2 linked regions of the Homo sapiens genome follow. The protein of the gene in region 1 interacts with the protein of each later gene in a biochemical or structural test. Each region holds a gene or a part of one and is shown on either strand. Other genes may lie near its edges.

Region 1 (3,224 bases):
TTCTATTGCTATGTATCAAACAACCCTAGAACTATGACAATGCTTTCCGATTTCTCATGGCTGGGCTCAGCTGGGCAGCTCTTCTGCTCCACATGGTGTAGCTGGAGTTACTTGTGTGTTATGTTTAGCTGGGAGCTCAACTGAGGCTAGAATGTCCAAGGCCTGTCAGCCTTTGAGCTCTGTCCCTGTGATTTGTTGTCATTCACTAGTCTAGCTGAGCTTCTTTATAGAATAGCAGCTGAGTTCCAAGGGGGAGTTTTTAGAGGACAAGCCCCAGTGTGAAAGTGCCTATAAAGCCTCTGCTTGCATCACTTTTGCTAATGTCCCATTGGCCAAAGCCACTCACATGGATAAGCCCAGTGTCAATGTGGGAGGACCCTACTCAAGGGCATGAATCCTTGAGGTGTAGCCCACTGGGGGCGACTGATATGACAGTACACCACACAGTCCAGTCACCTTGCCAGATGGTGAGCACCTTGAGGAAGGAGCTGTGTTGGTCTTGTCCTCCTCTCCATCCCCAGCACCAGCATAGTGCCTGATCTACCAGGGCTACAGTGGATATTCAGTTAATATTTGTGAGATAAATAAACCTTATTTTATTATGAGTAATAATGGCAAATGAGAGCCATTATCTTTATTTATTTATTTACTTACTTATTTATTCTGGGGACAGAATCTTGCTCTGTCGCCTAGGCTGGAGTACAGTGATGTGATCACAGCTCACTGCAGCCTCAACCTCCCAGGCTCAAGTGATCCTCCCACCTCAGCCTCCCTCATAGCTGGGACTACAGGCATGCACCACCATGCCCAGCTAATTTTTGTATTTTTGGTAGAGATGGAGTTTTCCCATGTTTACCAGGCTGGTCTCAAACTCCTGGGCTCAAGTGGTCTGCCCACCTCAGCCTCCTAAAGTGCTGGGATTATAGGCGTGAGCTACTGCACCTGGCCTATTATCATTGTAGGTTTCCTGTATACAGATGCTGTGCTAAGAGCTTTTTCTGGATTATCCCATTTAATCATCCCAACAGGCCCAGGAGTTGGAGCTTCTACTTTCCCTGTATCACTGATGAAGCAGCTGAGGCTCAGAGAGGTTACATAACTTACCCAAGGTCACCCAGCTGATGAAGGGTGGAGTCAGAATCTGTACTCAGGTCTATCTGGCTCCAGAGCCCAGGCTCTTAACCCCATCATTGCTGCCTTGCAGATGAGGAAACTCAAGTCTGGGAGCAATGACTTGGTTTGGTCTAAGCTGGGAGGTCCCAGGCAATGTCTTGGCCCCACTCATGGGGTGGTTGCAAGACCAAGACAGGGGTGAAAAATGTGAGGATATAAAGCCTCACATTTAGAGGGAAAGGTAGACACAATGTGATACCCAAGGATTTGGGTAGGACCCTGCTCAGGAAGCATGGACTCAATGCAGGAGAGGAAAAAAGGCCCAGGAGCCCTAATCAGTCCTAGGCCTCAGTTTTCTCACCTGTGGAATGGAGCAGTGCCTTTCTGCCTTTGGAAGTGACAAGGTGCCCCTTGCCTCTGCAGACAGTGGGTGAGTCTCTGCTCTACATGCTGGAGAAGTGTCTGGGCCCTGCCTTCACACCAGCCACACGGGCTGCCTGGAGCCAACTCTACGGGGCCGTAGTGCAGGCCATGAGTCGAGGCTGGGATGGCGAGTAAGAGGCGACCCCGCCCGGCAGCCCCCATCCATCTGTGTCTGTCTGTTGGCCTGTATCTGTTGTAGCCCAGGCTCCCCAAGCTTCCCTGCATCTTGGTCCTTGTCCCCTTGGCCACACTGGAGAGGTGATGGGGCAGGGCTGGGTCTCAGTATCCTAGAGTCCAGCTGCAGAAGGAGTGGCTTTTCCTCCAGGAAGGGGCTTCTGGGTGTCCCCTCATCCCCAGTAGCCTCTTTCTTGCGTTTCTTTTTACCTTTTTTGGCACTCCCTCTGACCCCGCGATGAGTGTTTTGGTGGCAGAGGTGGGATGAGCTGGAAAGGTATGGAGGTGGGAGAGGATGGGGCTCTTCTGTCTGTCCTGCTTCTTCAGGTGAGTGCAGGCCAAGGCGGGGGTGAGATGGCTGAGCTTCCAGCGCCTTCTGTCCTGCCTGCCCAGTCCCTTCACTGCTTTCCTGCCCCAAGATGGCTTGCTTTTCACAAATAAAGAGAAAGAGCAGCTTTAGCCTTCTTGGTGGAATCCCAGGCAGTGGGAGCAGAATCAGAACTGCCAGGGAAGGGAAGGGGGACCTGGGTCTCAATGGGTCTCATTTGAGTCTCGCGGGCTGTGCAGATGCCCTGACAGAGTCGGTTTCCTTTGGCGGCATTCCCTTTCCCTCATTCAGCACTTCTGCTGGGAACTCCCTGACTATTCCGCTGCTGCAGGAACCCAGCTAGCTGGCCAGGTGGGGAGGGGCTGGGGACCGGCCAGGAAGGAGGGGTGACTTCATCCCAGAGAGACCCGAGTTCCCCCAGCCCTTCATCACCAACCCGCTCCTGCAGGAGTGAGTCTTACCTCCCCTGGCCCTCCTTTCTGGCTCAGCCTGCAGCGACTGTGAGGCCACAGCTCCTCAGATTCACTGCCCGCTGTGTGCCAGTACTCAGGCAGCTGGAGAGAAGAGAAGGCAGCAGCAGAGGCCCCCGCCCTCACCCCAGCCATCTGCACTTGTACCATTTGCTCTGTGCTGACTGTGGTCCTATAAATTCATGAGAAATAAACTGGTTCTGTGTGCCTCTCTGACCCTCGGGCCTGATCTTTTCTTGGGTCTTGGCCTGTGCCAGATGAAGCTGCAGGGCAGTGGATCTCAGGACAGGATGGGAGGATGGAGTCAGGGAGGCCAAGGCTGGAGTGGGTGGAACAGGAGGGAGGGGCCTGGGAGGAAGCTCTGGGAAGCCAGTGGCAGACATCTGTGGGGTCTGTGGCCCAAACTGGCTGGCAGACCACAAACCAGCTCTTCTTCCTCCTGGGCACACAGCTGGATGTCATGCAGCCACCCTTGCAATTAGGTGGGGCATGTGACTGGGCTCTGGCCGCTGGACCGTGCAGATGTGTGTGCCACTCCGAGGCCTGGTCCCCCAAAACTCCTGCATGCTCCTCCATGCTCTGTCATCCTTCTGCTGGTGTGATACAGACCTCACAGAGACCATGAGGGCCACGTGTTGAACATGGCAGAGCCACAGGTGAAAGGAGTCCTGACCCTGAATCGCTGCTTGGAGGAAGGTGCCTATTAATCAGAATCA
Region 2 (3,500 bases), on another chromosome or scaffold:
AGAATAAAATCCAAAGTCCTTAGCACAATAGATAAGGCCTTTCATGATCTGGTTTCTGTCCAATCTTTCATTCCTCATTTCTTAACACTCCTCTTACATATTTTGCTCTAGTCAAATCAAACTATTTTACACTCCTAGCATGTTCCATGTGGTGACATCTTAATGCCTTTACACATGCCAGTCCCTCTGCCTGGCATTCCTTTTTTTCGACCTGGTGAACTACCACTTGTTTTAAAGGCTCAGTTCACATGCCATTGTCTCTTGGCTGTCTTCCCTGAACTTCCTGCCTAGAGAAGGTGCCTTCTGTTCTACCATAGCACACTGTGTATACAGACATTGTGGCCCTTCCTACCTGAAGTGCAAGAGTCTTTTTTGTGTAGCTCCCTCCAGACCATGAGTTCCTTCAGGACAAGGACTGAGGCCTTCCTCTCTACTTCCATGACACTGTGTGTATGCTACCCACAAAATAGGCAATCATAAATGCTTATGGATGGACAGATGGATGGATCCCCTACCATCCTGTCTTTCCATAGTTCTCCAAGACACCTGCCTCCACCAAAGCCAGAGCCTTCTCTCTGTTGCAATCTGAAAATGGCCCCCATTTTTGAGGCGGTAATGAAAAATCATTTCAAGGCCTGTCCAGATGGTTGCTAGGGAATACTCTGGTATCCAAATCAATGTGATATATGATGACCATTACTACCACCTCCAGAAGGAACTCAGCACCAATTAGGCACTTTCTATTCTCTCAGCCACTGACCTCAACCACAGCTGGCACCATCAACATCTGGGTGTGAGGTCGTAGACTGCCAGGTCTCTACTGCCCATACTGGGGGTGGTCTAGTAAGAAAGGTGTGGAGTTACAACGAAAAGAACACAGGTTTTAGAATTAGACAAATCATTGTCTGAATACAACACTGTCACCTACTAAGCTGTGTGGCCTTGAGCAAGCCACCTTACTTCTTTGAACCTCACTTCCTCATCTGTAAAATGGAATTGATGACTATATTTGCTCACAGGTTGATAAACAAATGAATATAATAGATTGAAAATGATGAACACATTCCATGGCCACCAAAAGCTTTCAACATGATTATTTTGGTTTATGGAGAATAATAAGGTTCATTCCTTATATACCTCGTATTCTTCCTTTTCTTTAACTAACGTTTATTAAGACCTCCTTTGTGCCAGGCATTGGGCATGGTGCTGTACTATGAGCAAAAATAAGTAACATCCTTGCTTCAGGGAGCCCTGGTGGGAAGGGACACCCAGGCTAGCAAGGGATACAGACAAATAAACACCTAATTAATTCACAATGTGCAATATGCATTAGTGCTCTGAGACCCTGGGGTCAGGTGACCCCAGGATCAATTTTAAAGCATGGAGAAGCTATTCTCATAAGTAACAATATTCTACAGAAAACCTATCTGTTGGCTAAGACACAGGCAGAGAATCCAAGGTAAATTGTTAGCTATGAAATCCTAGTCTTATGTATTATTCTCCCTTTCTCTTTTCTCCATTCTACTTATTTCTAGGATGGTTGACAAATCAAGAGAGTAAGGGGCCAAATTCAGGGCACCAACTATTAGCCTTGCAAGATTTTATTTTACTTTAATTTTTTGGTGCTATGAAAAGCACAATGTTTTTCCTCTTCTCTGTAAAGAAAATTAGAACTAAAGATGGCTCAGCAGATAAAAGCTGTGGGTGGTAAATACTCCCACTATTCCCCACCGCCTTTCAGGCTTCTAAGTTTCTCTTTGCATTTACTGCATCTTAGAGCTGGAAACCCGAAAGAGCCCTGAGAAATTCTATGGTGAAAACCCACATCCCAATTAACAGATGAACAAATTGAGGCCCAGGGTGGCCAAATGATCTGCCCAAAGTTAAATGAGAGAGTGAATCAAAATTAAAATACAGTTCTCCTGAGCCTCCCCTTTTACTAGTCTGCAAATCTCTCTGCTCCCTGGGTTTTAGGCACCTTAACCCAGGCAAGTTTCTTCATATGCAGCCATTTCTGGTGAACGCTAGGGCTGTCTCCACTTCTGAGCATCCTGGAAGCCACGGAAAAACCACTTCTCTTCTAATGTCACTGGCTCTCTCCTCCCAGAAACATCCTGTTTCTTACTAATGAGATACTTTCAGATCCTCCTCTTTGGTTTAAGAACCATGTCTGCATGAAAAGTTTGGTTAGAGGTGTTTTTCTCAAATTGACTCTCAGAACTACAAATTTCCTGGCTGACAAAGCTCTGTGGCTGAGGTTGCTATTCTGCAATTAACTTAGTCTTAAAAGAACTTTCATGGATACCCTACACCCCCATGGGATAAAACCATAATTCATGCTTTAATATTGAGAACATCAAGACCCTGAAAACAAAGGGAATTCCCAATTTCATACACCGTTGACAACAGGAAGGGAGCCTGGGGTAGCCCTGGTCCAACTCTTTCAGGAAACCGAGCCCTCGGAGGGGCAGAGGCAGAGCTACTGACCTGGACTCCTGGTTCAGTGCTCTTTCCCACCCTTTGAAATGTCACCCCAGCTCTTGGGCTGAAGCAGCTGCGCCATCAAAAATGTCACATCAGTTATGACAACACAGTTTGTTATATAACTGGTGCTGCAGAGCAGGCAAGGGGAAGAAGCCATGAACATGAACCACAGCACCCCCCTTCTGCTTCTCAGGGTGGCTAAGTCCCACATACTTACTTGACAAGAGAACTCCACATGGGAAGGGAACACCCACTAATCAAAGGAATAAAAACTAGAGCTAACATTTGTATAATGATTTCTACATTCTAGACACTACTCAAAGCACATTTCATATGTTAACTCATTTCATGCTCTCCACAATCCTATTAGTAGTTATTTTCATTATCAGTCCCATTTTACAGGTAAGGAAACTGAGGCACCAAATGTTATGGGCCTTGTGTAAGGTCACATATTTAGTTAGCAGTAGAGCCAAGATTTGAAGCCAGGCAGCCTGTTTGCAGAGTCTATGCTCTTAACCAACTCTCAATTTTAGAGAAGCATGCTAAACTGCTTCTCTAAACACAAGAAACTACCTATTTATCTGAACCAGTTAACAAGCCACTGCTCTCTCCTCTCCTTCCCCTCAGTGCTAATCACAGATCTGTTGGACAGCTTCCTTTCTACCAATGCTGTGTGTGAATGAGAGGGATGGAAGAAAATAAGAATGTGACACAGATTTGAAGAAATTCTTAGGATGGAGTTCATTTGAGCATCTTCAAGCTTTTTAAGATGATGCAATCAGTAAGAAAGTGAGGTGAGTGCTCTTCTCAACATCTGCCATTTGTAAACCCACACTCTGTGGGTATGTACAAACAGGCACACTTTCTTTTTTCAGAATCAAAAGTTTTCTCTATTAGTGTCAATTCTGAGGGTAACTCTTTCCAAAATGTGGTTTTTTTTGTTTTGTTTTGTTTTTTTCAGTTTGGAATCACCCCTTCACCAGCTTTTCTGTTGTCTTTCAGATCAAGATGTATTC

Evidence for each region.
Region 2: the proteins of NGB (region 1) and GNAO1 form a complex in vitro, tested with the Homo sapiens proteins (one study listed by BioGRID).

What each region holds. Positions count from the first base shown.
Region 1 is NC_000014.9:77,264,983-77,268,206, reverse strand, and holds the end of NGB (neuroglobin), read left to right. Parts: intron 1-1,536; coding exon 1,537-1,671; 3' UTR 1,672-2,724; downstream 2,725-3,224. UniProt on the Homo sapiens protein: Monomeric globin with a bis-histidyl six-coordinate heme-iron atom through which it can bind dioxygen, carbon monoxide and nitric oxide.
Region 2 is NC_000016.10:56,197,989-56,201,488, reverse strand, and holds part of GNAO1 (guanine nucleotide-binding protein G(o) subunit alpha), read right to left. Parts: intron 1-3,500. UniProt on the Homo sapiens protein: Guanine nucleotide-binding proteins (G proteins) function as transducers downstream of G protein-coupled receptors (GPCRs) in numerous signaling cascades.